Regions from separate parts of the Homo sapiens genome. Here all the other regions are linked to region 2. Evidence: fine-mapped expression QTL. A gene starts in region 2. Each other region holds a variant in brackets. All regions are shown on one strand. Distances are between the middles of the regions.

Evidence for each region.
Region 1: its variant is fine-mapped to the expression of TM7SF3 in whole blood (TOPMed, PIP above 0.99).
Region 3: its variant is fine-mapped to the expression of TM7SF3 in atrial appendage (GTEx, PIP above 0.99).
Region 4: its variant is fine-mapped to the expression of TM7SF3 in atrial appendage (GTEx, PIP above 0.99).

What each region holds. Positions count from the first base shown.
Region 1 is chr12:26,942,517-26,950,627 of GRCh38, forward strand. The region is part of intron 1 of FGFR1OP2 (FGFR1 oncogene partner 2); the gene reads left to right. Among named protein-coding and RNA genes, the nearest start is that of FGFR1OP2, 8.1 kb to the left of the region's middle. The variant G/A (reference allele first, on the strand shown) is at 3,373.
Region 2 is chr12:27,010,930-27,019,040 of GRCh38, forward strand. It overlaps TM7SF3 (transmembrane 7 superfamily member 3), which reads right to left and starts at 3,455. Exons shown (of 12, transcript NM_016551.3): 1 at 3,149-3,455. The coding sequence starts at 3,239. RefSeq lists a silencer at 3,148-3,647.
Region 3 is chr12:27,148,574-27,156,684 of GRCh38, forward strand. It overlaps the pseudogene LOC124902904. Among named protein-coding and RNA genes, the nearest start is that of C12orf71, 70 kb to the left of the region's middle. The variant C/T (reference allele first, on the strand shown) is at 4,476.
Region 4 is chr12:27,094,961-27,103,071 of GRCh38, forward strand. It overlaps the pseudogene LOC124902904. Among named protein-coding and RNA genes, the nearest start is that of C12orf71, 16 kb to the left of the region's middle. The variant C/T (reference allele first, on the strand shown) is at 3,825.

The DNA of each region.
Region 1 (8,111 bases), 68 kb before region 2:
ATAGAATTAGGTTAGAGAGAAGGCAAATAGGTGAAGCAATTTTAAAGAAGAAAACAGTGACTTATACATATTAGATAGGGAGAGTTTATTTTACAGCTGTTACATTTGAGGCAATGTGGTATTGATGCAGAAATAGATAGTCATTTTAAGAGGACAGGTTTCATGATGGTTCTAATTGCATTTCTCTAATGGCTAATGATGTTGAACATCTTTTCATGTTTCTTATTTGTCCATATCTTTTTGGTTCACTAGTAAAGTCTTTTATTCATTTTTATTTGGGTTATTTTCTTATTGTTTTGAGAGACTTTTTTGTATTCTAGATACAAGTCCTTAGTTGGATAAGTGATTTGAAATATTTTCTCCCAGCCTGTAGCTTGTCTTTTCAAACTCTCTAAACAGTGTCTTTCCCAGAGCAAAAGTTTGTGATTTTGATGAGGTCCAGTTTATCAAATTTTTCTTTTATGAATCATGCTTTTAGTATCATGTTTACAAAAACCTTTGCCTAACCCCAGGTCACAAAGATTTTCTCTTATTTTTTTCCTGAAAGTGTTATTGTTTTTAATTTTATATTTAGACTTATGGTCCATTTTGAGTTAATTTTTGTATTAAGTGTAGGAATTATGTTGGGATTAAACTTTTGGCATATAGATGTCCAGTTCTTCCAACACCATTTGTTGAAAAAAGCCAACCTTTCTCCTTTGACTTGCCTTTGCACCTTTTTCAAAAATCCATTGGCCATTTTTGTATGGCCCTGTCTCTAAACCTTTTCTGTTTCTATCAGCTCTATGCCACCTTGATTGAAGTAGCTTTATAGTAAGTCTTAAACTTTGGTAGTGTGAAAAAAACTGAAAACAAATAGTTTCTTCAACTTTTTTTGTTTTCATAGTTGTTTTGTTGTTATCTAGTTTCTTTGCATTTCCAAGCTAATTTTAGAATTAGCTTGTCAATTTCTCTAAAAAAATCTTGCTGGGACTTTGACTGGAAATTGCACTGTTTGTACAACAGTTACAGAAAACTTGACATTTCGGCTGGGTGCAGTGGCTCACACCTGTAATCCCAGCACTTTGGGAAGTCAAGGCAGGAGGATCACTTGAGGTCAGGAGTTCGAGTCCATCCTGGCCAACATGACGAAACCCCATCTCTACTAAAAATACAAAAATTAGCTGGGCGTGGTGGCGCACGCTTGTAATCTCAGCTACTCTGGAGGCTGAGGCAAGAGAATCGCTTGAACCCAGGAGGCGGAGGTTCCAGTGAGCCAAGATCGTACCGCTGCACTCCAGCAGCCTGGGCGACAGACTAAGACTCTGTCTCAAAAAAAAGAAAAAGAAAACTTCCCTACTATGTTGAGTCTTCCAGTCCATGAACACAGTATGTTTCTCCATTCTTTTAGATCCTCTTTAGTTTCTTTCATTAGCATTTTGTAGTTATCAGCAAACAAATTTTGCATATGTTTTAATTTGTGCCCAGGAATCTCAGGGTTTGTTTTTTGTGTTTTTTTGTTGTTGTTGTTTTGTTTTGTTTTGCTATTGTAAATGTGTGTTTTAAAAAAAAAAGTTTTGGTTTCCATTTGTTTGTTGCCAGTATATAGAAAAACAGTTGATTCTTATGCTTGTATCCTGTGACATTGCTAAAATCATGTAGTAGTTTTAGGAGTTCTTTTTTGGATTCTTTGGGGTTTTCTACATAGACAACAATGTTGGTTGTGAAAAGGGGCCGTTTTATTTCTTCTTTTCCAGCCTGTATGGTTTTTCCCCCCTTCCTAGCCTTATTACACCAATGTATTGAACAGGACTGGTGACTGCAGACATCCTTCCCTTGTTCCTAATTTTATTGGGAAAGCAGTCAGTCATTCATTATGAAGTATGACGTTTGCTGTAAGTTTTCTGAAAATGCCCTTTCTCAGTTTAAAAAAATCCTCTTCTAGCTTGCAGAAAATTTTTATTATGAAAGTATGCGGAATTTTTTAATAATATGCCAGTTGGTATGCATAAGTGATTTTCTTCTTCAGTGGATTACATTGGAGACAGCCTTGAATCTGGGATAAACTCCCATTGGTCAGGGTATATTACTCTCATTATGAGTTGCTGAATTTGAGTTACTAATATTTCCTTAAGGATTTTTTATTTATGTTAATGAAGGATATTAGTCTGTGGTTTTCTTGTATTCTCTTTGGTTTTGGTATCAGTAATACTGACATCAGTTTATGAGATTAAAATTACAAGTATTTCCTTTTCTATTATTTTTTTAAGAGATTGTATAATAATTGGTGTTATTTCTTCTTTAAATGTGTGATAGAATTTGTCCTTGAAGCCATCCAGGTCTGGAGATTTTTTGCAGAAGATTTCTAATTACAAATTCAGTTTCTTAAAATAATTATAATAGGATTATTCATAGTTGTCTGTTTCATCTTGTGTGACTTTATGTAGTTTGTGTTTTTTGAGGAATTAGTCCATTTCATTTAAATTATCCAATTCATGTGTATGGAATTTATTATTGTGTTCACTTATCCTTTTAAGGAATTAGAGGTCTGTAGTGATGTCTCATCTTTCCTGATATCCCTTCTTTCCATTAGTAATTTATGTCTGCTGACTTTTTTTCTTGGTTAATTTTTCAGGAGGTTTTTCAATTTTTATTTTTTTCCAAGGACTGGCTTTTTATTTCATTAGGTTTTCTCTGTTGCTTTCTTGTTCTCAATTTCGTTGATTTCTACTCTTTATTATTTCTTTCTATTTACTTTAGGTTTATTTTGCTCTTCTTCTCCAGGTTCCTAAAGGTTGAGGCTTACATAATTGATTTGAGATCTTTCTAATTTTCTAATATAAACATTTAATGCTATAAATTTGCTTCAAAGTAGAGTTTTACATACATGCCAAAATTTTTGATATTTTGTATTTTCATGTTTATTTAGATCAAAGTATCTTCTAATTTCCAGAAACTTCCTTTTTGACTTATTATATAGAAGTACATTGTTTAACTTCCAGATGTTTGGAGATTTTTCTTGTTATCTCTTAATTACTTACTTTAGTTTAATTTCATTATAATCAGAGAGCATAATTTGTACTGGCTAGGCGTGGTGGCTCACGCCTGTAATACCAGCACTTTGGGAGGCCTAGGCGGGCAGATCACCTGAGGTCAGGCGTTCAGGACCAGCCTGGCCAACGTGGTGAAACCGCATCTCTACTAAAAATACAAAAATTAGCCGGACATGGTGGCATGAGCCTGTAATCCCAGCCACTCGGGAGGCTGAGGCAGGAGAACCGCTTGAACCCAGGAGGCAGAGGTTGCAGTGAGCCGAGAATGTGCCATCGCACTCCAGCCTGGGCAACAAGAGTGAAACTCCGTCTCAAAAAAAAAAAAAAAAAAGCATAATTT[G/A]TATGATTACAGTTCTCTTAAATTTGTTAAGGTTTGTTTTGTGATCCAGGATGTGATCTATCCTCATGAATATCTTGAGCACTTAAAAAGAATGTGTACTCTGCTGTTGTTGGTTGTAGCATTTCATAAATATCAATTCAAGCCAGTTAGTGGATGCTGTTCATTTTGCCTATATTGCTGATTTTTGTGTACAAAGTCTGCCAGTTACTGAGAAAGGAATGTTTAATTTTTCAGCAGTAAGGGTGGATATGCCTATATATCCCTTCAGTTGTTTGAGTTAGTGCATTTGTATTTTGAAGCTCTTTAATTATAGTTGTATATACATTTAGGATGCTTATGTCTTCTTGGTGATTGGGCATTTTATCATCATGTAATGTTCCTCTGTCCCTGGTAATTTTCTTTTCTCTGAAGTTTACTTTGTCTGATATTTATTTATTTTTTGAGGCAAGTCTCACTTTGTTGCCCAGGCTAAAGTTTAGTGGCGTGATTGTGGCTCACTGCAGCCTCAACCTCCTGGGCTTAGGTGATCCTCCTACCTCCACCTCCCAGCTAGCTGCGACTGCAGGTGTGTACCACCACGCCCGGTTAATTTTTTGTATTTTTAGTAGAGGTGGGGTTTGGCCATGTTTCCCAGGCTGTTCTGGAACCCCTGGCTTCATGATCTGCCAGCCTTGGCCTCCCAAAGTGCTGGGATTATATGGGCGTGGGCCACTGCGCCTGACCTTGTCTGATATTATATAGCCACTCTAGCTCTTTTCTTAAATATAACACCTTTATTGAGATATGTAATTCACATACCATACTATTCACCTATTTAAAGTGTACACTTTTAGGGTTTTCAGTATATTCAGAGTTGTGTAACCATCAACAAAATTGATTTTAGAACATTTTTCCCGCGCAAAAAGAAACCGTATGTTCATTAACAGTCACTTCCCATTCCTCCTTCCTTTTCCTAATCCCTCAGTCCTAGACATCCACTAATCTACTTTCAGCCTCTGTGGATTTGCCTCTTTTGGACACTATATAAATGGCGTGATACATTGTCTTTGTGACTGACTTCTTTCACTGAGCATAATTTTTTCAGTTTTCATCCATGTTGTAGCCTGTTTCAGGGCATCATTCCCCCCTACTTTTTTTTTTTTGCCAGATATTCCACTGTATGAACACATCATATTTACTCATTTATCAGTTGAATAATATTGCTGTGAACATTCATGTACAGTTTTTTGCATTGACATACTTTCATTTTCCTGGTATGTACCTAGGAGTGGAATTGTTGGATCACATGTTTAACCTTTTGAAGAACTGTCAGACTTTTCCAAAGTGGCTATACCATTTCACATTCTTTATATCCTAGCCAACACTTACTATCTTTTCTATTATAGCCATCCTAGTAGGTATATCTCATTGTGGTTTTGAATTGCATTTCAGTGATGGCTAGTTATGTTGAGCATGTTTTCATGTTCTTATTAGCCCTCTGGTTTTCTTTTGACTAATATTTGTACAGTATATCCTCTTTTCCATCCTTTTAACTTTTTTTTTGGAGGCAGGGTCACACTTTGTCACCCAGGCAGGAGTGCAGTGGCACAGCCAGGGTTGACTGCGCCCTCACCGTTCCGAGTAGCTGGGACTACAGGCATGTGCCACCACACCCAGCTAATTTTTAAATTTTTTGTAGAGACAGGGTTTTGCCATGTTGCCCAGGCTGGTCTTGAATTCCTGGGCTCAAGCAATCCTCCGATTTTGGCCTCTTAAGGTGCTGGGATTACAGGTGTGAGCCACTATGCCCGGCCTGTCCTTTTACTTTTAACCTACCCATATCATATTTAAAGTGAATTTTATATAAACAATGCATAGTTGGGTCCTCTTTTAAAATTCTGATCATCTGTCTTAATCTTATCTAAATATAAATGTCGAGGACATTTATATTTAGTGAAATTATTAACATGTTTGGATTTAGTTCTGCCATCTTATCATTTGTTTTCTTTTTGTTCCTTTGATATTCCTTTGTTTTGCCTTTTCTCTGTCTTTTGGGTTATTGAACACTTTTTAATTCATTTCAATTAATCTATTGTAGTTTTGACTATTATCTCTGTGCAGTTATTTTAGGGATTTATTAGGAATTACAATATATGTAAATTTTTAAGTCTACTTAAAATTGATATTTTTACAACTTCAAGTGAAATGTAGAAATCTGATCAATGTATAGGCCTTTTTAGCCTCCTCCCTTTTTCTTGTAGTTATATATTTGCCTGCATAAATTAAAAATCTCATTAGATAAATGTTATAATTCTTGTTTTTAAACATTAGACATTTAAAAGAACTAAGAGGAAAATAATTACCCAGATATTTACAATTTCAGTTGGTCTTCCTTTGTTCCTGATGTTCTAAGTTTCCTTCTGATAACACTTTGCTTCTAACTGAAGAGTATTCTTTATAATAAGTCTACTGGAAATAAGTTCTTCTTTCTCTTCAGCTGAGAATGACTTTTATTTCACCTTCATATATGAAACATATTTTTGCTGGATATAGAATTTTGGGTTGATAGGTCTGTTCTTTCAGCATTTTGAAAGTGTTGTTCTACTTTTTACTGGCCTTCATTTCTGTTGGGAAGCCTACAGTCATTCAAATTGTTCTCTATGAGTAATATGTCATTTTTCTCTGGCTGCTTTCAAGATTTTCTCTTTGTCTTTAGTTTTTGGAAATGTGACTACAACGTGTCTGGAGTTAGATCTTGTTGGAAACTCCTGCCTGGGGTTTCCTGAGGACTGGGAATGATGAAGACAAGGTTTCTTAGAAGGAAGCAAAGTGTTACATCATCGAAATGTATAAGTTTCAACTATTGAAGTTAAATATGTTTTTATATTATTGGATGACAAGTTAGAATGCGCTTGGGAGAATACACAAAATACAGTATTTTAGTCATTGTGAATATTGTGTCTTTTCGGTAGGGGACTCTTCTAAGGTATTCATAACGTAAACATACTAGAATATTTAAGAATATTGCCTGGCATGGTGGCATGCACCTATATAGTCTCAGCTACTCAGGAGACTGAAGTGGAGGGTCTTTGGAGTCCAGGAGTTCCAGCCTGGGTGATGGCAAGACCTCGCCTCTAAAAATAACTAAACTTAAAAAAATAATAATAAATATTTCTAAACCATGGAGAGAGGCAACTCCATAAAATCTTCTTAGAGATGTTCAGAAAGTTGTTCAGGAATGGTTTTAGTCGTTGATTCACCATTACAGTTTTTCTTTTTCATTTTGAGATGGAGTTTCGCTTTTGTTGCCCAGGCTAGAGTGCAATGGCGCGATCTCAGCTCACTGCAACCTCCACCTCCCAGGTACAAGCGATTCTCCTGTCTTGGCCTCCCAAGTAGCTCAGATTACAGGCTTGCACCACCACGCCCTGCTAATTTTTTTGTATTTAGTAGAGATGGGGTTTCATCATGTTAGGCTGGTCGCGAACTCCTGACCTCAGGTGATCCACCCACCTCAGCCTCCCAAAGTGCTGGGATTACAGGTGTGCACCACCACACCTGGCCTACAGTTTTTCCAGATTAATTTATTTACAAATGAAGCATGAATTAACCAGTATCCTATGCTATCCAAGGTAAGTTTTCCCATTCGTGTTTAATATTGTGGCCATTTTTTTCTACTTAAATGAAATGTTTCATGGAGTAGTATCTGTTTGAGGTTTTTTTTGTTTGAGACAGAGTTTTGCTCTTGTTGCCCAGGCTGGAGTGCAATGATGCGATCTTGGCTCGCTGCAACCTCTGCCTCCCGGGTTCAAGCGATTCTCCTGTCTCAGCTTCCCGAGTAGCTGGGATTACAGGCGCATGCCACCACACCCAGCTAATTTTTGTATTTTTAGTAGAGATGAGGTTTCATCATTATTGGTCAGGCTGGTCTCGAACTCCTGACCTCAGGTGATCCACCTGCCTCAGCCTCCCAAAGTACTGGGATTACAGGAGTGAGCCACCGTGCCTGGCCCTGTTTGAGGTGTTATGTGGTACTATCAAGTAGCCATTCTGATTATGTCAGTTTTTATCTTCATGGATCTTACAACTTGATGGTCACAATGGTTCTTTTGAAATTTGACAGGCCAAATTTTGTGTATCTATCATGGAGTCTTTTAACTTCTTCATGGGTTTATTTTACAGTTTCATATGAGGCTTTTGCATAAGGACATTTAGTCAAAGCATCCCGCTTATAGTAACGAACTTTAAGGTATTTCTATGGTATCTACAATATTGTTTCTACCTTTATGATAGCAGTTATATTAGGCAGCTACCATCAAGCCATCAAGTAGTTAATGTATTCGTTGTTTTTTTTTTTTTTTTTTTTTTTTTTGAGACAGAGTCCCGTTCTGTCACCCAGGCTGGAGGTGCAGTGGCACAATCTCGGCTCACTGCAAGCTCCGCCTCCCGGGTTCACGCTATTCTCCTGCCTCAGCCTCCTGCGTAGCTGAGACTACAGGCGCATGCCACTACGCCCGGCTAATTTTTTTTTTGTATTTTTAGTAGAGACGGAGTTTCACTGTGTTAGCCAGGATGGTCTCGATCTCCTGACCTCGTGATCCACCCGCCTCGGCCTCCCAAAGTGCTGGGATTACAGGCGTGAGCCACCGCACCTGCCCTGTATTCATTGTTTTTAAAAGGATATCTGAGAAACCTCTTTTCTTTGCAGCATTTCAGAGAAGTGGATTATTCTAAAAGCATATCACCTATTCATGTATATA
Region 2 (8,111 bases):
AACTCTTCCTTTTTACTATTTTACTAAAATTTACTTCTACTGTTTGTGTTTCAACACAACAACCAAATTCTAAGAGAAATCCATCATAGCCTAGTCTTCATAATTCTCTTCACATTAAAAACAAAAATGGTTCAGCTACTTGAGTTGGTCAGCAGTCAACCGCCCCTCCCAATTTCTCATTGTTATCTTCTTACAAATGTTCAATAGCCCTAAAGGTTGAAAGGGAACACAAAAATGAACATATTAGCTTCACACACTTTTTAGAGAAAGACAGCACTTGCAACTAACCATGAACAGCCTGCTACCTTGGTAAAGCATCATCAATAGCAAGAAGACTGAAAGGCCCAAATGATGCTGTGCTCAAGTCCAATTACTATGAAATTCCACGGGAGTTACTGGATATGAATCTAAACAAATGAAAGATGTTAAAGGCAGCAGTGAACTGGGACTCCAAGAGAAGGGAAAACTGCTTAAAAGTATGATCCATCTCATGTGCCTACTGGTCACAGAAAGCACCCTCCTCAGACATTCTAGGAACTCCATCTGCCACGTTCCAAGATTTATTTAGCATTCAGGCCACTACAGAAGTCATGCAAGTTAGCTCATCCTGCCAAAGATGGGTAAATCCTCCTAAATTACAGCAGATGCTCAATTTCTTCAGTTTGTATGGTTATCAGAATTATCATCATCAAACATCAATCCAGCCATTTTCTAGGAGGATTATGCAAGTCCTGAACTATGTCCTTCTACCTTTCTATACTGATTTTTAGCTGATAGATGTGGAGAATATCAGCTTTTATTATCACTCAGCAGTTAAGTCCCCACATTGTCCCTCTTCTGCACAGAATGACAATACCAATGCAAGGCAAAAAGAATAACATTGAGGAATATCAGTGCTATAATCATAGCAAAGAGGCAAAAAGCAGTGTCTGAAAAAAATTAATTTCTCAATTTATTCATATTTTTTAACTTTTGTATAAAAATTTCTAGGTATTAAATACTAACACCAAGTAGAAAGAAAAAGTTCTGGACGCCTGCTCTCCTGACTCAGGGGCTGGCCTCGATCAACTAAAAACTCTAATATCTCAAATTCTTCACCTGTTAAAATAGAGATAGCATCTCTTCTACCTCCATCATAAGGCTATTTTGAAGAATGAGGATTCACAGAAGGATTAAGTACAAAGCACCATGCCATGTAAGATATTCTTATTGGAAGACAGCTTTACGGAAGTGGAAGGACTATGAAATTTGCAGGGAGACTCACCTGGGTTCAAGTCCTATCTGTAACCCTAGCAGCTGTTCATTTGTTCCTCTGACAAGGGAGGAAGATCATTACATTGTAGGGTGGTGGGGATTAAATAACACTGCACGTGGAAAGCACCTGGCACACACTATACAGAGTGAATGTTAGTGCCCTATTATAAGCAAGGTTTTTCTGCAAAAAAAAAAGTTGCCCTTTTCAGCTTTGGCCTCAGTCCTATATACAAAGATCCTAGAATTCAGTTTGCACAAGGGCTTTTCAAAGATAAGTGCATAGCAACACAATCACATTATTCAGAAAATATTATGTTTCAGAACTGCAACTAGTCTATTAACCTCAAAACAAAACAGAATGTGCTTAGTTTCATGGAAAAGCACATGATGATCTGCCTGGCACAACTAGTGCCTTTTACATTTTATATTAACAAACCATGAGCTGTTGCCCAAACCCATTCACCAAGCACAAGACTTACAATCTAACATCCCATTCTGAGTTCTCACTGAGATGAACAAGAATTACCTGAAATCGGCCGGGCGCGGTGGCTCATGCCTGTAATCCCAGCACTCTGGGAGGCCAAGGCGGGCAGATCACGAGGTCAGGAGTTCGAGACCAGCCTGAACAACATGGTGAAACCCCGCCTGTACTAAAAATACAAAAACTAGCTGGGTGTGGTGGCGGGCGCCTGTAATCCCAGCTACTCTGGAGGCTGAGGCAGGAGAATTGCTTGAACCCGGGTGTCGGAGGTTGCAGTCAGCCAAGATCATGCCACTGCACTCCAGCCTAGGCGACAGAGCGAGACTCCGTCAAAAAAAAAAAAAAAAAAAGTCACCTGAAATCATCAAAAATGGTGTACTCATAGGGAGCCAAGCCCGGGCATGTTGCTTCTTGGCTCCCACAGGTGAATTTGAAGTGGCAATAGAACTTCGTTGATTCTTGTTTTTCTCATTTTAGTTTTACTCTCTATTAAATTGTTATTTTTTACAGTTCATTTATGGATGACAAGTTATTTCCTGTTGGTAGCTGCAATGATTGGGAATTTTGTGATCTCTGTAAACGAATTAATATCTCATAGAGATCTATTTCCTGTTGGATATGAGACAACAGAGAACACAGTTTTTGTCCATTTGTCTTTTTTAAGGTCAAATCGATTAGAAATTTCTTGCCCTCAAGTAAGGAGAACAACTCTGATACCTGGACTGGCAAGCTTTTGTGTTTCTGTGTTTATTTTTCATTTGTGGCTGAACTTGTAGAATTGAGGGTATACACATTCTATCTGTATGTCTATGTATCTGTAATTCAGAAAGTCCTTTATTTCTCATTGTGAGTATGGAATGTTTTCCTGTCTCCAGATGGTATTAATAAATTAGATGGTAAAGGCTCTTTAAAAATAAAGCCTCATTATGGGTTCATTTTCCCTCTCAAACTCTGTAGAACATAACCAGTTTGAAAAGCCTCTAGATTTGGGGGTGTAAAAATTCCATGCAGCTTGAGAGCCATCAGTCATTAAGCCGCTAGTTCCACCCCAAGTCTTGCTGTCCAGAAGCTCAGACAGTCCACTGGGCAGCAAAGAGGCGCTTTAGTAAGTTGAATTAAAGCCACAAACATGGCTGCTCCCTAAGGGAGATAATACTGTGTTAAAAAAAGAGAATTATTTATCTCTTCCCATTTCCTCCGCTAAATGAGGAGGTTAATAGTAAGACCTCCTTAGCCATGAGTGTTTCCGCTGCAGGAAACACCATTCGTGCCGGTTCTGGACTCACCACCCAGCGTGTACCAACGCCCCCAGCACCATCTCCCTGCTAGGCTGACAGACCCCTGGCGGATTTTGACCTCGCAAGAAATGCAAAAGCAACTTTGGGTTGCAGAAGCCAGGCGCCCCGACCTTACCCTCGCTGGAATTCCCGAAGACCTCGGCTGCACCAGCCACCCGGTGTTCGGATGCCAGCACCGCTACGACCAGCAGCTGCAGGAACCCCATTGCTGCCTGGGCCGGGCTGGGCCCACGCCAGGGCTGGGGAGAGGTGCGGGCGTGCGCGCCGGGGCCCCGCAGCCTCGCCCACGCTATCCCGGGGCGCCCGCATCGGGCGCCATCGCCCGCCAGGTGCAGACGCTTCGCACCTGCCAGCTCCGCAGCCGCCGGCGCGCGCCCCGCCGAACTCCTAGCCCCAGCGAGAGGTTTCCTCTTCCGGCACCTGACCCCCAACGCGCGTTCCCGCGCCTCCTCCCGGGCTCTCGCTGCGTCACAGCGGCGGGTCTCTGGGCGCGGGCGGCGCTGGGGCGTTTCCAGGCAGCGCGCGCCTCCTGCCGGCGCGCGGGGAACGCGCAGCCTGCGGTGCTCCCGGGAGCCCCCAGGAAGTCCTGGCTTGAGGCCCGGTCTTGCCCCACTTTTATCTCACCAAGTAGGCAAACCCACTGTGAAAGTACAAAATAACTTTCTGTTGCGGACTAACGTCGCCAGGCTCCTGTTTCCGTGTTTAACGGCCCTTTACAACAGCAAAAAAGAGGAATCAGTTGCTAAAAACACAATTGAAGGTTATTTCCCCCGGTAGCAATTGTCTTCGCTGCTGAGGCTTATGTTAGCATAAAAATGCCAGGAGAATGCTGTTTGTGTAGTGGTTACCGCACTAGTCATAAGCACTACATTTAAAAGTAGTTTCGTTTTCTCTAAGCGAAATATCCTCGAAGACACGGCCTTGGTCTGAACTTCGTCTCAAGTCTCATACCTGAGTGCTGTTTGAGGGACAGTAGTCCATGTGACAGATGGCTCATCGATGATGTGGAATTAGACGCATAGACTTAACGTTATTTGGGGAGGATTGTCTTGCTTTCCTTCCCTGGTTTTAATTTTTTTCACTTATATATTTTGATGAGCAACTTATAGCTTGGAAATTACATGTTCAGTTAGTCCACTACTAAGCTAACAATATATAGCTGTGACCATAATGTGAAGAAGTGTTAAAGACAAAATTATTCAATGATACTTGTTAAAGCACCGAACGAAGACTATTGAGGACTGTCTCAATTGGCATAGGGACCACTGCAACTGGGTCTTGCAGTGGGGAAGAGGGACTGGGCTCAACTCCGAATACAGCGTGGGCAAGAGGGAATTTATAGCCAACCAGCAGTATGGAGTTCAGTGGATGGAAAATTACTAAGAGGAAGCATCAGAGGTAAGGGGCATTTGGTGAAACTGACCTAACAGGACTTCTGAAGACATAACATCACCTGGGGGATGGTGCAGGGTGAGAAAACTGATTAGATATGGAGGAAAGGGGGTTCTTTGCTAAAACTGGATTTTTACAAAGAAGTGCACAGATGGACCTAGCAGAAGATTCAGAAGCCGTACTAGAGTTTGGCCAAGCAAATAATCTTTGTCATAGGCACAATTCTTTCTCTGCTTTCCCACTGCCTGGTCCAAATTTTCACACCTTTGGTAGCACTATCTATTTCTGTAGTGCTTATTCACTCTCCCACATGCCCCTATTCCTATAACCCTCAGTAGATGAAATCCAAGGAAGATGAAAGGGACAATTATGATAAGGGTAGCATCTGAATCAGTGGATGGATTATTCAATAAATTGTGTTCTTAACTGATTAGCTGCACTATGGGCAGAGAGAAGCAGAACTCTATCTCACACTAATTGTGAAAACAAAATCCCAAAGTAATAAAACCATAAAAGAGCTAGCAGAAGAGGGCGCTCTTTTTTTTTTTTAATAAATTGATCTCAAAATGGGAGGAGCTTTCTAAGAAGCAAAACAGCAAAGGAAACAACCATAAAGGAAAAGATTGGTAGACTTGGCTACGTAAATGCTTTTTACATAAATATTTAAATTTTATTAAAGTAAACACACAAACAATATGAAAAGGCAAGTTGACCAAAAAAAAAAAATTAGCAAAGGACATGAATGGGGAATTTCACCCCAAAAAAGAAATACAAATTACCAGTAAATACATGAAAAAAGTTCAATCTCACTAGTAAACAAATAAAAAAATCAAATTAACAAACTAAGATGTAAACATTTTAAAAGTATAAAACATCCAGTGTGGATAAAAGAGCTAAGAAGGAGGCATTCTTAGGTAGGGATACTGGGAATATACACTTTAATAAAGTAATCGGCATCAAAAATGTTTAAAAATCTTATTTTTGTAGATTTGGTATAATCCACTTTTAGATTTAAGTACATAATTAAATACACATATAAAAATTAGTATAAGCTGGGGGAAGTGGTATGCGCCTGTAGTCCCAGATACTCAGGGGGCTGAGGCAGGAGGATTACTTGAGCCCAGGAGTTCAAGAGGGCAGTGCTGTATGATTGCACCTGTGAATAGCCACTGCCCTCCAGCCTGGGCAACATAGTGAGACCCCATCTCTTAAAAAAAAATAGTGTACAGAACTATTCATAGAGTATTATTTAGAGTAGCAGAAACATCTAAAACAACCTAAATGCCCAACAATTAGGAGTTAAATAACCTATGATAGAGCTTTATAAGAGGATCCTGTGCAGCCCTTCATTTATATTCTGATTGAAGTCTTTATGAAAAGGCAAGTTATGATGCAATAAGTATATATAGTACGTGGCTTTTTTTTTTTTTTAACATACATCTTTTATTGACTCAGAGGAATGGATACTTTTGTTGTTTGTTTGTTTTTTTAAATGGAGTCTTGTTCTGTCCCCCAGGCTAGAGTGCAGTGGTGCAATCTTGGCTCACTGCAACCTCTGCCTCCCGGGTTCAAGCAATTCTCCTGCCTCCGCCTCCCAAGTAGCTGGGATTACAGGCACACACCACCATGCCCGGCTAATTTTTGTATTTTTTTTTAGTAGAGATGGGGTTTCACCACGTTGGCCAGGCTGGTTTGGAAATCCTGACCTTGTGATCTGCCCACCTCGGCCTCCTGAAGTGCTGGGATTACAGGCGTGAGCCACCACACCCGGCCTGTAATTTTTTTTTAAGAGACAAGATCTCACTATGTTACCCAGGCTGGCCTTAAACTCCCAGATGTAAGAATTAAAGAAGAAAGAAACAGGAAAGGTGGCTTAGAAGTCAAGGACAAGTTTATTTTAGAGAAAACAAACCTGAAAGGGGCTTCTGGCCAGTTAGGTTAGAGGCACACTCTCTTACGGACTAATAAGAGTTTTTAAGGATTTAGGGTGGGAGAGTTTATCAGAGGCTTGGACTGCTTCTGTGTCTGTTGTGCTTATCTGGGAGGGAGAGTTGTGTGTCTGTTCCCATACATCTTTTTGCAGCTGCAGGCATACCCCCGAGTCTGCTTTTAGCTTCCCTATCTTAGTGCACCTGAAGGGAAAGGAATGTACTTACTAAGGCCCACTGTTTTACTGGGGCCCATTGTATGAGGGTGAAGTTTGGCAGTTACCCAAGAGAATTTCCCCCCACCTCCCTTTGTGCCTGAGCTGTCTTATCTGTGTTTTACTGTCTGCTCTTTCTGGCTGCTTATAGTTAGAAGAGAAGTGATTTCCTTGAAATGCATGAGGCTAGAAAGGGAGCTGGAACTTAAAGTGGCGGTGTTTGTCCGAGATGACGGTGCTCCTGGTCTGTCACCAGACTCAAGCAATCCTGCCACCTCAGCCTCCAGACTAACTGGGACTACTACAGGCTCACACCACTGTGCCTGCCTTGTTTTCTTTGTAGTATGCATTCCTGGTTATGTACATAGAAAAAAAGGTTGAAAAATATATGCCAAAATGTTTAAAATAGTTATCTTTAGGTGGTTAAATTAAGAATGATTTCCTTTGCACATTTCTGTGTAAAAGTTCTACATTGAAGTGTATCATTTTTAAATAAGAAATTATGATTTTGTAAAAGATACATATAATTTTAAAGGTTTTCTTATAAAAGCATTCAAGATATAAGTCCACCTTCCTGAGTATGACACATAAATGCTTTTTGTGATGCAACTCCTGCTCACCTCCCTAGGTTCTTGCTGCAACTAAAATCAGACCTCTACATGCTGGCCACATTGAATTAATTTCAATTTCCTGAACTGAGCCTATTCTCTCTCCTCCATACCTTTGCATCGCAGTTCCCCAGGCCTGCAGTTGCCTGTGCATGCATGACAGTTGATGACAAATGTGTCAGCAATCAGAACAGGGCCTCATTACCTTGGCTTCTAAGTACAGTATTGTGACAGCTTGGGAGGATGATTGGCTGGGGTTCCATGCTCATGTCAGAGTTCCATTGGAGAGCTGAGAAGCAAACAAGCTTAGCAGCTTTGCAGATTAGTTCATTTTTCCTATGTATTGAAAGGAAATGCAGAAACTGAAAGATTCCCAAATCCAAGATATGCATCATTAGAGGCTTAAAGTCTGTTTAGGCCAGGCGCAGTGGCTCATACCTGTAATCCCAGTACTTTAGCAGACCAAGGCAGGAGGATCTCTGGAGACCAGGAGTTCAAGATCAGCCCAGGCAACATAGTGAGATCCCCATTCTTACACACACACATACACACACACACACACACAACCAGAAAAAAAAATTAGCTGGGCATGGTGGGGCACATCTGTAGTCCTAGATACACAGGTGGCTGAGGCTGGAGAATTGTTCGAGCCTAGGAGTTTGAGTTTGCAGCGAGCCATGATTATGCCACTGTACTCCAGCCTGGGTGACAGAGCAAGACCCTGTATCTAATAAAACAAAAGTCTGTTAAAATTTAGAAGAGGAAGGAAGGGCAGGAGGGAGAGAAGGAGGAAGGGAAAAAACTTACCCTAGCTTTTTAAATAAAACCTAAAATACCTTAAATGGAGCTGGGAGTGGGGATCCAGGGAAAAGGCAGGATTGAACCTCTGTGAAATTTGCCCATTCATTCTTTCCCACTCTAATCTCACCTTCATC
Region 3 (8,111 bases), 140 kb after region 2:
AAAATAAGGAAGTGCAATTCAGTGAAGACAGGTAAGATAGTAAGAGAGCATTTAGTTACATTTTAAAATGAAATCATTAATTTGAAAGGGTCATATATACCCATGGTAAGAATGTAAGCCAGAGCTGGCAGCATCTCTGTCCTACAGAGAAATCCTGTCCCTGGAGTAGGATTGAATGAAGCCAAGAAACTGAAAAAATTGCAGATGGGGCAAAGAAAGAGTCCTGGAGACTCAAGTCCATTAGATTGCAGGACCATTCGTGCCCTTTTAGATTTTTTTTTTTTTTCTCAACTGAGTTCCAATTGAGTTTTTTCTTTTAGTAAAAATGCCTGAAAAAAATAGTAAATTTATAGATGAGAATTCTTATGCTCAGAGGGGTAAAGCAACTCACCCAGGTTACAGGCAGGAAGCAGCAGAGCCAGGTTTCTAAGTGAGGTTTCTCTGAGCCACAAACGTGTTTCTCTTTCCATTTTTCCTCTATTGATCAGTAGTTTTCTATGAATCTGTTGTCTAATGAAAAGTACCTAGGTCCTCTAGGAGAATCCTCCTACTGTTATTGTTTCTAATTATCTGTTCATCTTTCAGTTAGAAGAACATCCATTCTTATATTGATGTCTTGTGGCAGAATGTGAATTTCTGCCTACAGTGCCCACAATGGCATCAAACCTATTATTATGTTCAGGTCAAGATTCAAACTCACAAAACTACCATAGACCTCTTTGGCATCAGATTCACTCAGAGAAACATGGGACAGGGCTGGGCGTGGTGGCTCGTACCTGTAATCCTAGCACTTTGGGAGGTCATGGAGGGCAGCTCACTTGAGGTTAGGAGTTCGAGACCAGCCTAACCAACACTGTGAATTTTTGTAAAAATACAAAAATCAGCTGTGCATAGTGGCAGGTGCCTGTAATTCCAGCTATCGGGGGCTGAGGTGGGAAGATCGTTTGAATCTGGGAGGTGGAGATTGCAGTGAGCCGAGATCGTGCCACTGCACTCCAGCCTTGGTGACAGAGTGAGACTGTCTCAAGACAAAAAAAAAAAAAAAGAAGAAGAAAGAAAGAAAGAAAAGAAAAACGAAAACATGAGACAGGAACCACAATTAACTACAGGTGGTGTCAGGTGTCCCTCCAAATTATGCAGCTGCCCAGAGACAACTCAAATGCATGAAGGTGTGATGCATATGAGGCAAGTGCAGGAACCACCCTGAATTAAGGTCTCATTCCCTACAGGAGCCAATATCACCTGTAACAAACTTCAGATGTGTCATTTCTGGCATCACTACACATACTCAATTAAAACAGTCAGCACATTCAAGGATGCTAGAAGCTACAATCTCCATCAGATATTTATGGTGCATTTATAGTTCCTCCCACTCCAGATGCAATTTCCAATCAGAGATCCTTTTTATTATAAGCAATGTTGCTGAGTAATACTGTTAACATAGTACTCTAATCTGGTTCTAGGGGAACAGAACTAGAATGTTAACTAAAGCTAAAATTCATACACAGCAGAGAAAAGATTTTGTTAACTCTTAACCCAAAATGCCCCACTGATAGCAGGTTTGGCTATATGGTTTGCTTTAACCAAGGGAATGCAAGAGGAGGTGACTTACACCACCTCCAAGCAGAAGGCTTGTGAGCCATTGCATGATTCCACTCTTATTCCTTTCCCTCTGCTGTGAGACAAGGGTAGGGGCAATACCTTCAGCTTAGGTCTCCAATGAAATGAAAAAGATATTTGGGGAAGAGCCATAGAACAAAGGTGTAATGGATCCTCAGTTGTTATGAAACCTCCAAGAGAGAGAAACATTAATTGCTGTAAGCCATCACTAGTCAGAGGACTGGTGTTTACTGCAGAATAACCTATTTCTGATTAGTACATCCCTTTTGGAAAGATATAGGCTGGGTTTATCATTCTCCTACCAGGAGTCCAACTAAGCCAGCTAGCCCTTCAGTATGTGACAGCCTTAATTCTGGCAAGAATCCCCAATTCGAGTCTGATGGAAAGTTGTTTCCTCTTATCGAGCAGTTTTGATGTTAGAACAGTCCAAGTAATGCCTGAAGAAAAATAATGTATATAGATTATGATGATTTATTGCTCTAATTTGTCTTCTCCTTTGTGTACTCAGGGTTCAGTCAAGAGACAGGAACTATGCAGAGTTACCTGAATACATATAATTTTTATTTTTTATATTTATTTATTGAGACAGAGTCTCATGTACTCTGTGGCCCAGGCTGGAGTGCAGTGGTGTGATCTTGGCTGACTACAATCTCTGCCTCTTGGGTTCAAGCAATTCTTCTGCCTCAGCCTCCAGAGTAGTTGGTACTACAGGCGCCCACCACCATGCCCAGCTAATTTTTGTATTTTTAGTAGAGATGGGGTTTTGCCATGTTGGCCAGGCTGGTCTGGAACCCCTGACCTCATGTGATTGGCCCACCTCAGCCTCCCAAAGTGTTGAGATTACAGGCGTGAGCCACTGCGCCCAACCAATAAATATAATTTAATATAAAGAATTGTCAACAGGCCAGACACTTGAACCCAGGGTGGGGAGGGTGGAGGTTGCAGTGAGCTGAGATTGAGCCACTGCACTCCATGCACTCCAGCCTGGGTGACAGAGTGAGACTGTCTTAAAAAAAAAAAAAAAGAATTGTCAATGAAATATAAAATTGTCAACCTGGTAACCAAAAAGGTGAAAAGAAAAATCTAAGATGTTACAGAGGTAGCAACTGCAGGGAACTCTTAATCGCCTCTAGGTCTGAGGGAACAAAAGTAAGAGGCTGGAATTCTTAAAATGTAGAAACTTAGAGGAGCAGCGGCATGAAGCTGAAACTCAGACATCTGAGGAGAAAGGTACTGCTCAGTTGGTGGTGTTGTCTCTGAGTTTGGAGGCAGTGTCTCTTGGAGCTGGGATCTGTCTCTGAAGAGGGGTTTGGTGCTGGTGTCTCTTGGTGGGGAGGTGGGGTGCAGTCCAGTTATTTCTGCAGGTGGTAGGGAAACTGAAAACTGGATCCAACTGCTGCTATGGTGAAGCAGAGTTAATAGGGTGCCAGTAGCAAGAACCACAAGCAAACAGGAAGCTCACAGGATGAAGTGTGTCCCTCCTTCCTCTTCCCACATTTCAGTCTCCCTCTAGCCCCCCTATCATCAGAGCTTAACAGAGAGCCAGCTAGCAAAGCTGAAATGGGGTGTGGAGAGACCCAGCAAACCTCACTGATCAGTGCACGGGGGCACCTGGCTAAGGCGTGAGTGAGGGCTGTGGTTCAACCTGTGCTCTCCTTGTCAAGCGCTAAGTCCTTGTGTGGGGCTATGTCAGCCAGGAGGAAGAGGCATCTTTTTCAAATTCACACAGAGGTGTCATGTAGGCTAGCATATGCACTGATGCAAGGATCATTAATAGTCTTCCTTCCATCTTCTAAATAGCTCTGAAGAGCATGTATCTTTTTTTTTTTTTTGATCCAGGGTCTCACTTTGTCACCCAGGCTGGAGTGCAGTGGTGCAATCATAGCTCACTGTAGCCTTGGCCTCCTGGACTCAAGCCATCCTCCCACCTCAGCCTCCTATATTCGGGAGCTGGGATCTCAGGCATGCACCACTATGCCCAGCTAATTTTTGTATTTTTTGTAGAGATGATGTCTCACTATGTTGCCCAGGCTGGTCTCAAGCTCCTGGGCTCAAGCCATCCACCTGCCTCAACATCCTAAAGTTCTGGAATTGCATGCGTGAGCTACCGAGCCTGGCTGAAAAGCATGTATTTTTATTGTAATATTCCAGACAAACTTACATGCAACCTTTTGCAATTTCATATATAGCCCTCCCTTATGTACCATCAAATATTTATACAGATTTGTTTGAATTGGTTTCTGCATTCTTCCACCGATTCTCTTGCTACTGGCACCGCGGGTGCCGTTTTTTATATGCAGTGTAGGTTTAGTTCTCTCCTTTCTCATATTCTGGACTTCCAACTATGCAACCATAATAAGTCTTTACTGCTTCCACTGGCCTCTTTCTTATTTTTCCTTCCGTTGTCTTCACTAGAGTTGTGTTAGGAAGCAACTTTGCTCTTGGTCCTTGTCCCTTAGGCAGCCTTAACATATTCTACAAAATGTTCAACATTTTCACTAATGATCTATATGAAGGCTTTGAAGAGATTATTTTTAAGTTTGTTGATGACACAAAAATAGGAGGGTTAGCTAAAATGAGATTCCTAATGATCTCCACAGACTGAAATGCTGTGTTGATAGCAAAAATATGAAATTTATGAGATAAGGGAAAAAGCCAGTAGAATTTAAAATAAAGATAAAAATTAGAGTAAAATAACTGAAATAAGACAAACCTCTATTTTTTTAACATAGTACCAATATGATTTATGTGATAGTTTTAGAAAAGAATCATGCCATTTTTGTAATAGCCACACAATAGCTACTCAGGGTTTACAGAATTTGATATTTGACAAAAATTTGAATCAAATAATAATC[C/T]AGAAATAGGCCAGGGGCGGTGGCTCATGCCTGTAATCCCAGCACTTTGGGAGGCCGAGGCCAGCAGATCACTTGAGGTCAGGAGTTCAAGACTAGCCTGGTGAACATGGCGAAACCTCATCTCTACTAAAAATACAAAAATTAGCTGGGCATGGTGGCGTGCCTGTAATTCCAGCTACTCGGGAGGCTGAGGCAGGAGAACTGCTTGAACCCAGGAGGCGGAGGTTGCGGTGAGCCAAGATCATGCCATTGCACTCCAGCCTGGGATGATAGAGCAAGGCTCCATCTCAAAAAAAAAAAAAAAAAATCCGTAAATAGATCATTAATTATAACCAAGAAAAAAGTGCTGTCATTTTTGCTTACTCAACTACTTCATGAAAATCCTGAGAAAACCCAGTAAATTATATAAAAATATAGTTATATGTAGGTATACAACAAAATATTAATGGTGGTTATCTCTGGTTCAGGATTGGTAAGTTTTTATTGTATTTTACTATTGAAAATCTTATTTTCTCTATAGGACATGTATTTGCTTTGTAATAAGAATAAACTTTAAAAAAATAAAAAGAGGCTTGGCACAGTGGCTCACGCCTATAATCTCAGCACTTTGGGAGGCCAAGGTTGGAGGATTGCTTGAGACCAAGAGTTCAAGACCAGCCTTAGGGACAAAACGAGACCCCATCCATACAAAAATTTTAAAAATTATCTGGGCATGAGGCATACACCTGTAATTCCAGGTGTTCAGAAGGCTGAGTCAGGAGGATTGCTTGAGCCCAGAAGTTCAAGGCTGCAGTGAGCTATGATTTGCACCACTGCACTCCAATCTGAGCGACAGTGAGACCCTGTTTCAAAATAAATAAAAGCAACAGATAAAAGCAACCAAGTAAAAAGGGATCAAATATATTTGGAGTTCTAGGGAAAGTCTGATATAAAAGTATTTTCTGGCTGGGCATGTGGCTCACACCCATAATCCCAGCACCTTGGGAGGCTAAGGCGGGCAGATCACTTGAGCTTAGGAGTTCAAGACCAGCCTGGGCAACATGGTGAAATCCCATCTCTACAAAAAATACAAAAAATTAGCCGGTTATGGTGGTGTGTGACTGTGGACCCAGCTACTCGGGAGGCTAAGGTGGGAGGATCGCCTAAGCCTGGGAGGTGGAGGCTGCAGTGAGCTGAGATCACACCACTGCACTCCAGCATGGGTGACAGAGTGAGACCCTGTCTCAAAAAATAAATTAAAAGTATCTTCTTCACAATGATTTTAAAATAGTACTAAAGCAACAAGTAGAAATAAAAATTATCTAAGTTGTTCCATTTAATGAAACATAAGTGAGTAGTAATTTGATATATAGTTACAGATTTCCAAAGAGGGTGAAAAAGAATAAATTGGAATCTGTAATAGCAATATTGTGGAATAGATTTGCAAATAAGAATCAATGAAACATCTTTTTATATAGAAAATATTTGAAAAAGATAATTTATTTGACAGAGAAACAAAATGGCGAAAAAATGCTGAGAATTTTTTTCACTCTTTTTCTTACTTAGATACATGGAAACAGCCAGGTAACAAAAAAGTACTCTGTATAATGCTTCGATGAGATATGCTAACCATTTTCTATGAGAAAAGAAGAAACACTTTTGGTCAGAAAATGGGTTCAGATGAAATTTTGTTCTGCTCACCTTTAGAATTAATAGTGTGGTTGGCTTCCTGCAATGTTTTTATGAAAGGAAATTAAATCTTAGGCTCAGCCTCATTTTGGTTCTTGATGCCTTGTTTTGTTTGCCCAGGGAAGCTCTCCCTGTCCCCTACTCTAAGTGAGGGTCCACTCTCTGAGACTGTTCTTTTTTTCAGAACATGAACCTCAGTTCATAATTCTGCCTCCGCTAATGTGATCATTTGATTCATACCTGAGTACCTCATTTGCCTATCAGCTCCATAAGTGTGTGAGCTGTGCCTGTTCATGCTCACCATACGTGGTATCCCTAGAGCCTAACCCAGTCACTGAAACATCGTAGGCACTCCATAAGTATTTGTGAATCAATACATAAATGGATGAATTAAAAATTTAAAAGTAAATAATTGGAATGGATTATGGAGACAGTAGAAAAAACTTAGTTAACTTTTTAGGTACTGTGAGAGAATATCTTTAAAATGTTTCTTGTGGATTTAGCAGAAGATAAAAGGGCAATAAATTTAAGGGGAACTGCATATGAGAAAGAATATGAAAAACTACCAATCTTCCAGAAAAAAAAAATCTGGTAATTTCCTTACATAGAGTAAAAGAGTTTTAGTACTTTCTATTCTGAGTTCTATTTGAATATTTTTCTCTTTTTATATGGTATAAGAGGGCTGTTTTCTTGAGTAAAATATTTTATTAACCTAATATCGTTGGTTAATCAAATGTCTTCATAGTGTAAGATTTGAAATAGAAAGCCACGTTGAGTCTTTCAATACATAGAGAAGCTAGATTACAAGAGAAAGAGGCTTTGCCTCACTTTTTTCTTTTTTTTAACCTCCTTGTAGTTTTCTGGGCTGTCTTTACAGATTTTTGGTTCATAGATTTTCTAAGTAAGATTTTTGACATATTATATATCTTTTATTCAATACTTCTAATAAGAAGAAAAAGATACCCTTTCCTCACCGTCTTACAACTTTGAAAAAAATACTGTAAGATTTCCACTGTGGTGTGAAAAGTTTTATTCACTCTAGAAAACTGGGTCATCTTCTTTTCAGAACCTTTTTTTCTAAATCTGAGAACAGATTTAAGGAAAGCAAAGCAGAAAGTTTTCAATAATCCAGTGGGAATTCCTCTTAGAAGCAAGAGAGCTAGAGAAGATGATTGCACAGACTTAGCAAGGTTAAAACGGGTATTTCTAATACGTGAAAAATGTGTGAGTTAGAAGGTTAACAGTTGATTCGACAAGTGGCAGAAATGGGTTTTTTTCAGTTCTGTTGGGGAACAAAAATCAGACGACATCCCTCAAATCTGTACATTTTAAACATATCAAATTATTAGTTTCCTGTTGTACTGTATTTTGGCTCTTAGGTTTATGATTCTTAGTATGAGAGAGGAAGGATAATCTTCAACATAGTTAAAAAAAGAAAAAAAAGGAGGAACACGCAAATATTTTGCTTAAGCCTGAGATGAGATTGGAAGAAACCAACAAGTCCGTTTGAGGATAAATAAAGTCACACTTGAAGAAGGGCAAAAATCAGAAGTGACCTAATAAAATCTCCCTAATAACAGTAATGGTAAGGTGATATTATATATAACTTTTCTCTCTGGCTCCTGGAAAATTTATCCAATCTAAGTAGTTATCTATCTTGCCTCACAAATAATCCCTTAAAACTTTTTATTTCTGTTACTTGCTAGATTCAAAAAACATAATTAAAAATTATTTTATCTGTAAAATATCTACCTCAGTTCTCAAATTTAGTATAATGAGTTGTTTTAAAAGTCAGATTACATAAGACAAACCAACACTACACTACTTCTCCACAACTAATGTACGATAAAAATGAGAACAAATGATTAAAATATATAAGCTGATAAATGCAAAATTGTTTAAAATACCTTTTATATCTTATGATATCTAAGGCAATGGGTTAAAATAGCTCTTCCTTGATAACTTTGA
Region 4 (8,111 bases), 84 kb after region 2:
CCCACTGACTGTTTCACTTCCTGAACTGAAGGTGTTTAAAGCCACTGCTCTTCACGGAGATAATCCTAGATGAATATCCCAGGGGTATCCATAGAGAAGAGGGTGAATGTGACACTTGCAGATGACATTTTAATTAAGATTAAAACTGACAAATGGCCCCAGTCTATTGCTTTTTGAAAACAAGGTCTTGGGAAAGAACCACTACTTGTCCTTGGAGAGCCTGGGCGAATTAGAAAATGGTGCCCCTCCAGGTGAATGCAGCCCCCAAGCTGCATGGATTGGATTTCAGCGTCTGTGCACCCAGGGTGAGACACTCTGTGAAGGACATGACCTGCACAGCCAGAATGGTGACCTCCTCTGGAGATCTCAGTCAGTTTGCTTCCAAATTAAAACAAGTTTGGAAGCAAATTTGGCTAGGATGACATTGTATATTTACCTTTCCAAGCCAGCATGGTTCTGTCTATGATGCTAGTTCTGTAGCTATTTTTCAGAGTTGAAGACCAGGTGTGATTTACAACCTAGAGTGTCTCTAGCTGCTGGCATCTAAGTTTGGCACTGAGCACTTAAAGTGCCCAGACCATGATGTTTTACTGTGTGGAGGAAGGCCTCGTTGGAGAGGCACAATGTTTTTTCATCTGACATGTTTGCTCTTGTGGAAATGGCTTGAAGTATTTGAGTGCTGGCAGCAGAAAACATGGGAGGAGACTTAATTCTTGCTGAGTATGAATGATCCTATACAAATTAAAACTGATCACTTTTAAAGGCCGTATAAAACTATTCATCAATCATTAGATTGCTTTGATGTATATATCATATATCTGTGTGTCTCTACCAGGATCCTAGCATGAACCTCTCCCTGAACAAACACTGAATAAATATTGCTATGATTTTGCTTATACTTTTGTCATTGACTTAGAGACAGTTTTGTTTCTTGTTTTTAACTCTGTGTTGAATATGAGTTCAGTTAGTTTTCTGTTTTTTATGTTTATGGAAGTACCTCAATTTTACTAATGGTGAGGCGGGGAATATAGGAAAGTATGAAAAACAACCACACATGCACAATTGCTTTGTAATTTCAAACTCTAATGGACACTCTCTGGAGGTGATTGCCATATCTCTCAGTAGGAACAGAATTTGAATCTGGGAGCAAGTAATCAGTCTGTAAATGTTTGTTATGATACTGGAATTGCCAAATATGCTGTATCTAATTGAATTTCATTACTGGGGCATGAAAGGCAGTTGGCTGAATGTTGTCACTGAAAAGAATATATTGTGGACAGCAGATTGTTGCCTATATAGTGCTTGTATAAAAACCCTATATCCAAATAAGGTCACATTCTGAGGTTCTGGGGCTTAGGATTTCAACATATAAATTTTGGAAGGACACAATTAAACCCATCACACCATCCATAGTTGAACCTCAACACAAATTAGCCTCAGAAATCAAGCTGTATTTATTTTGTGTTTTTTTAGCTATGCTTATTTTGGAATTGTATATAAACTGAACCTATTTCCATAAAGTAGTTGAATTTTATTCCTTTTTTCCAGACCCAATAGACCTCATGGTATTAGTTCTGCAGTCAACATTGTGCTTGCTCTCTCTCGCTCTCTGACTCTCTGACTCTATCTTGCTCTCTCTCTCTCTCTCATGTTTCATGAGTCATTAGGCCAAAAAGTATTAGGTAAATGAAAGCAAATATGACAGCAGCTCCTTGAACAAGGGGACCACTTCTTTCCCCCTCAAGTCCATGACCTGTAACATGTCTAACATTCCAGTTCTGAGGATTTTAAAAGTAGTTAGTTGATCTGTAGTGTGTTTTCACTTGACATCTTGCTTTAGTTACGCCATTCTTGCATATCCCTCATTTTCCACATTAGCCTCGTTTAGTTGTGCAGTTTTGACATTCACAGCTCTCCAGTGCTTTGGATTGAATGTTTATACCAAGAAATTGCAGCTGGCTTTTCTAGCAGGTCATTCTGATGTTGTCCAGGGATGCCATCAGAGGTGCAGGTTCTTGAAGCACCTTTTATACTATCTTCCTTTTCTACTCTGGGCCTTTCCCAGTTTCTGGGAGGTCAAGGCATCTGCCAAGCCTCTCTCTCTGCAGCCCACTGACATCAGGCATACTTGTATGCTCCATCTGTACTTTATTGCTTTTTGTTTGTCTGTTTGTTTGTTTGTTTGTTTGTTTTGAGACGGGGTCTCACTCTGTCACCCAGGCTGAAGTGCAATGGTGCAATCACAGCTCACTGCAGCCTCGACCTCCCAGACTCAAGTGATCCTCCAACCTCAGCCTCCTGAGTAGCTGGGACTACAGATGTGTGTCACCACACCCAGCTAATTTTTGTTTGTTTTAATAGAGATAAGGTCTCACTATGTTGCCTGGCTGGTCTTGAACTCCTGGGCTTAAGCGATCCTCCTGCCTCTGCCTCCAAAAGTGCTGGGATTACAGGTGTAAGCCATGGCGCCCAGCTCCACCTGTACTTCAAAACTCACCCTACTCCCTGTTCCCGAAGCATGTCACGTGCTAATGTGACTGGTATGTACCCTCTTAGCTTCTGGGCCCTGAAATACAACCCATATTTTGTTCCCCCTATCCTAAGAGATCAGGTGGAATGGAAGATTGTCTCCCTTTTTATTAAATGAGTCAAATTTTGTCTCTCCTCAAGTATATTCCAAAATATCAGTAACCTGTTAATAAAACGGCTTATCCCTTCAGAAAACAGAATTTAGGGTGGGTTAGATAATACACATAATCATCATCATCATCATCATCATCATCATCCATACCTCTCTAAGCCTGTAGCAGGGTGGAATAGCATGAGCTATTGATTGTATCTGAGCAGAGGAATGCTTGGTACCCCATATCTCTAGAAGAAATTAGGTGGCTTGAGAGGCTCTTTTAGGTCTGAATAATTTCAGTGCCAAAGACCAAAACCTCTTCATAAACTGCAGTTAGACTCTCCCTGATTGCCATGCCTGGCTTTCTGTTGGAGAAAATCCTAGAGGAAAACAGAAACTCCCAAGGAGCTGGGTAGCCAAGAGAGGAGCCCAGACCTTCCATCTTCCATCTGGTGACCTGATGGTTCTGGCATTTGACTTCTCTGAAGATAAGAAACCCTGGGTATTACACATAAATTCCAATATCTGAATTGACAAAAGTACTCTCTCCAGGGTAGATATGCTATCAGAGCTTAGATGTAAGGATGTTTTAAAAATTTCATTCACAGAGCTGAAGTGTCAGGCCCAGCAATATTTCTTTGGCCCTTGACGTCAGTCCTGTGAGCTAGCTCTCCAGCACTAGGGACTATTCTTGTGTTTAGTTTTACCTCCTCTTTCTTGGGGTAGATCACAATCAAATAGCTCCCAGTTCCTTCCTTTGGGAAGACAATGACCTTGCCTTCCCCACACACATCCATAAAGCACTACTCCTTGGACTCCACACCCCAGGTCCAGAATAGTCAGGGTGGCTACTCTAGGACTAATCTCTCTTCCTATCTCCTGGTAAAATGGTTTTAGTAGATATTTGTCCCTAGCAGCTGTTAGTTTCCCCTCTCATCACTATATTAAGACATCCTTGGCCATGCATGGTGGCTCATGCCTGTAATCGCAGCACTTTGGGAGGCTGAGATGGGAGGATCACTTGAGCCCACAAGTTCAAGAGCAGCCTGGGCAACATAGGGAGACCTTGTCTCTACCCAAAATAAAAATATTAGCCGAGTGTAGTGGTACATACCTGTGATTCCAGCTACTTGGGAAGCTGAGGCAGGAAGATCACTTAAGCCCGGGAGGTTGAGGCTACAGTGAGCCATGATTAGGCCAC[C/T]GCACTCCATCCAGCCTGTGTGACAGAATGAGACTTTAAAAAGGAAAGAATAAAAAACCTTCTAGCCCAAGAATTCTTTAACTTTTTGCTTACACATTTGGGCCTTCCTTATTTTTCATAAGGAAAAATAAATTTTAATACTCTATTACTCTTTAATAGAGGGCAGGAATTGAAGCATCCTGAGATGAAGATAATTCAAAGACATCCAATACAGATGGCATAAATAGCAAAACTTTGAAAAGTATATTGTTCCCCAGCCTTGTTTTTAGGCTCAAATAAACACCCCATTAAGTAGAATGTATACCCTGATCACTTAGAATACTCAAGTTTCGAGGTGCCACTTAAAAATAAGGCAGATGCTGTACTTAGCTAGGGAAAAGGTATGTCTCTGGCAGGTGGGATCCCTTCACCAGGTCCATGAGATGGACTTAATTGGAAGCAAATACAGAATTGGAGATGGTCAATCAAACGGAAGCTCCTCAGTTCCTAGATCAGTTTCTGGTACATGGTAAGTGGGTAAATGGTAGGTAAATGAGATATACTCCTTGAGTAAAGTAGGTAGGTAGGTAGGTAAATGAGAAATACTCTTTGAATAAAGAGTAGGCAAATGAGAAATACTCTTTGGTAGGTAAATGAGAAATACTCTGTGAATAAAGTACAGTTGTCCCTTGGTATCCATGGAAGATTTTTTCTAGGCTCTCCTGAGGATCCCAAAATCAATAGAGGCTCAAGTTCCTTATATAAAATGATGTAGTATTGGCATATAACCTACATACATCCTACTATATACATTAAGTCATCTCTAGATTACTTAGAATACCTACCACAATGCACATGCTATGTAAATAGTTGCTATACTGTATTTTAAAATTTGTATTTGTTTTTCTTTGAATATTTTAAATTTGTGGTTGGTTAAATTCATGGATATGAAATCTGTGGATATGGAGGGCTGACTATACATATATATATATAATTATGTATATGAGTAAATGTATGAATTTATTCATGTCACTTTGGAGCACTAGTCATGAGACAGTAAAATGTGGAAAATCCTGACTATATTGGTCTTTTGGTAGCCCTGCCCATGTCACTCAACATGTAGCTGTGGTAAAAGCAAGTTTTCAAGTTCCTGTCAAGACAGTTCAACACATTTCCTCTCTTCTGCTTCTCTGCCTCCCTCATTCCCTCTCTTCTTAAAGTTATGGGTTGTCAGAACTTTTATTGAAATGAAAACAAAATCTAAGTTGATACTCTAAGACATGAAAGAGTCAGAGTCTAACAAGTCCATTAATATTCTATTCTTTCCTCTGCAGTACTGCAAAGCATGTTTGGTGGTGATAAAGGAATAGTTTTGTTTTGATGGATACAAATAGTTATTATTTATTTCATGATCACCATGGTAAGTGTAAACCAAAAATAAAATTCCAACCACCTGAATGGACCCCTCCTCTCGGCCAAGGGCATTCCAAAGTTAACCCGAAAAACTAGTTTAGGCCATGATGGGAAGGGGGAGCCCAACATTACTCATTATTCCCTCCTCCTTTTTGGAATTACTGATAGAATAATCTTTTAAAGTCTGATAAGAAACATTGACAGTCTATTCTCTGAAGCTTCCTACCTGGAGGCTTCATCTGCATGATAAAACCTTGGTCTCCACAACCTCTCATCTTAACCCAGACATTCCTTTTTATTGATTCTAAGTCTTTAGATAATAACAACTTTTTTAACCCATTACCAATCAGAAATTCACTGAATCTACCTATGATCTGGAACTAACCACCCTAGTTGTGCTCCCTTTCTGGACTGAACCAATGTAGATCTTATATGTATTGATTGATGCCTTATGTTTCCCTAAAATTTATAAAAGCAAGTTGTAGCCTGACCACCTTGGGCACATGTTCTCAGGATCTCCTGAGGGCTGTGTCATGGGCTATTTGTCACTCATATTTGGCTCAGAATAAATCTTTTCAAGATATTTTACTGAGTTTCACCCTTTTCATTGCCATAGATCTGGTATAGAAATTTTAAGAATGGGTCCTTAGTCCTTAAAAAGCTTGATTTAGTACAGGCAACACTCCAAGGACCTGGTTAGGCAAGACTGCTTGCCAGAGACATACTTTTTCCTTAGCCAAATATAACATCTATTAGAGATAACCCGTGGTTCCATATGGTACTTGGTAACAGAGGCTGAGAGAGAATGGGTGTGGGGAGAGACAACAAGTGCTATAGGAGTACTTGATGATGTGGTAATCTTCCTTGAGTATTCTGCCATGACATTCAGTTTTTATATATAAGATCCAGGCACAGTTGTCACTGGGTATTCATGGGGGGTTGGTTCCAGGACCTCCCACAGATACCAAAATCCAGAGATGCTCAATTCCCTGATATAAAATGGCATTGCATTTGCCTAAAACCTTGGAATCTCCTCCTGTATACTTTATATCCTCACTAGATTACTTATAACACCTAATACAATATAAATGCTATGTAAATCTTTGTCGTATTGTTTAGGGAATAATGACAAGAAAAAGTCTGTACCTGTTTAGTCACAGACGCAATTTTTTTTCAAATATTTTCTATTCATGGTTGTTTGAATCCACTGATGGGGCACCTATGGATATGGAGGGCTGGCTGTATTTCATCAAATTTCAGTGTAAAGGATGGCAGGGTAATGACTCACCTAGATGATACTTTTATAGTTCCTCCTGTTTCCTTCCTTTGGTGGATGAAGGAAATGCTGTCATACTCAGAAGTTGAGAGTGGGCAGTTACTTGCCTCAGTAAATGGCCACTCCATCCTCCTATGGCTTAGGCCATAGTCTTGAGTTCATCTTTTCTCCCAAATGCTCTATCAAGTTCTGTTAGCGTTTATAACAAAAATATACACAAGGCAATAGAAACGTTGCTATCTTGTTAGGGGTATGTTCATTTGTCAGAATGCATCAAACTGTGCAGCAAAGAGCTGTGCATTTTACTCTCTAAATTATAACTTAATTCATATGTGTAATGCATCCTAATATGTATGGTAATATACATTTTATATTCAGAATATATATATAGCAATATGCATTTTATGTATGTATATATACATATTTACTATATGTGTATTCACACATACGTACATAGCTAGTGTCCAATCACCATCTCTACTGCTCACACCCTGACCCGAGCCACCAACAGAACCTCTCATCTGAATTGTTGTAGTCATTTTTTGACTGTTCTTGTTTTTATCTTTGCCACACCTGCAGTGTGTTCTTAGAAATGATTCTTCTTCTTTTTTTTTTTTCTTTTTTTTGAGATGGAGTCTCGCTCTGTCGCCCAGGCTGGAGTGCAGTGGCGCGATCTCGGCCCACTGCAAGCTCTGCCTCCCGGGTTCACACCATTCTCCTGCCTCAGCCTCCCGAGTAGCTGGGACTACAGGCGCCTGCCACCACGCCGGCTAATTTTTTTTGTATTTTTAGTAGAGATGGGATTTCACTGTGTTAGCCAGGATGGTTTCCATCTCCCGACCTCGTGATCCGCTTGCCTCGGCCTCCCAAAGTGCTGGGATTACAGGCGTGAGCCACTGCACCCGGCCAGGAATGATTCTTCATAAAACAGAAATCAGATCATGTCATTCCTTGGCTCAGAACCCTCCAGTGGCCTTCCATCTCCATGCTCAATTGAAGTCAAAGCCTGGCTGCCATGGCTTGTGAGGCCCCAGATCCCACTACCGCACCACTCCCACCACACCTTCTGTGCCTCTGGGACCACATTCCCTACTAACCCCCCGGCTCACCACCTTCCAGCCCACTGACCTCAAACATCAACTACATGAAGCTCCCCCTCCTCGGGGCCTTTGCACTTACTGTTGTTTCTCCCTGGAATCTCTTCCCAGATATTCCTGTGACTTTCTCCCCTCACCTTCTTCAAGGTTTTAATCAATGTCACTTTACCAATGGGGCCCTCCCTGATTATCAGATCAAAACTTCTAAGTCCCTGCCATTCCCTTTCTGCACGAAGAGCTGGCACAGTATATAATTAAGCGGACATGCTCTGCTGCCAGACTGTCTGACTTCACATCATTTTTCTAGCTGTGTGACTTGGTGCCTCAGTTTGATCACTAATAAAGTGGGGATAAGTATCGTGTCATTAGGGTTATTGTAAAGATTAATTGAATTGATATATGAAAAGCACTAAAAAACAGTGCCCGGTACATAGTAAGCTAATGTTAATGTTATTCCTCTTGCTTGCTTCATTATTTTTCCCATAGCACTTATCAATCACCCTCTCATCTGCTATGTATTTA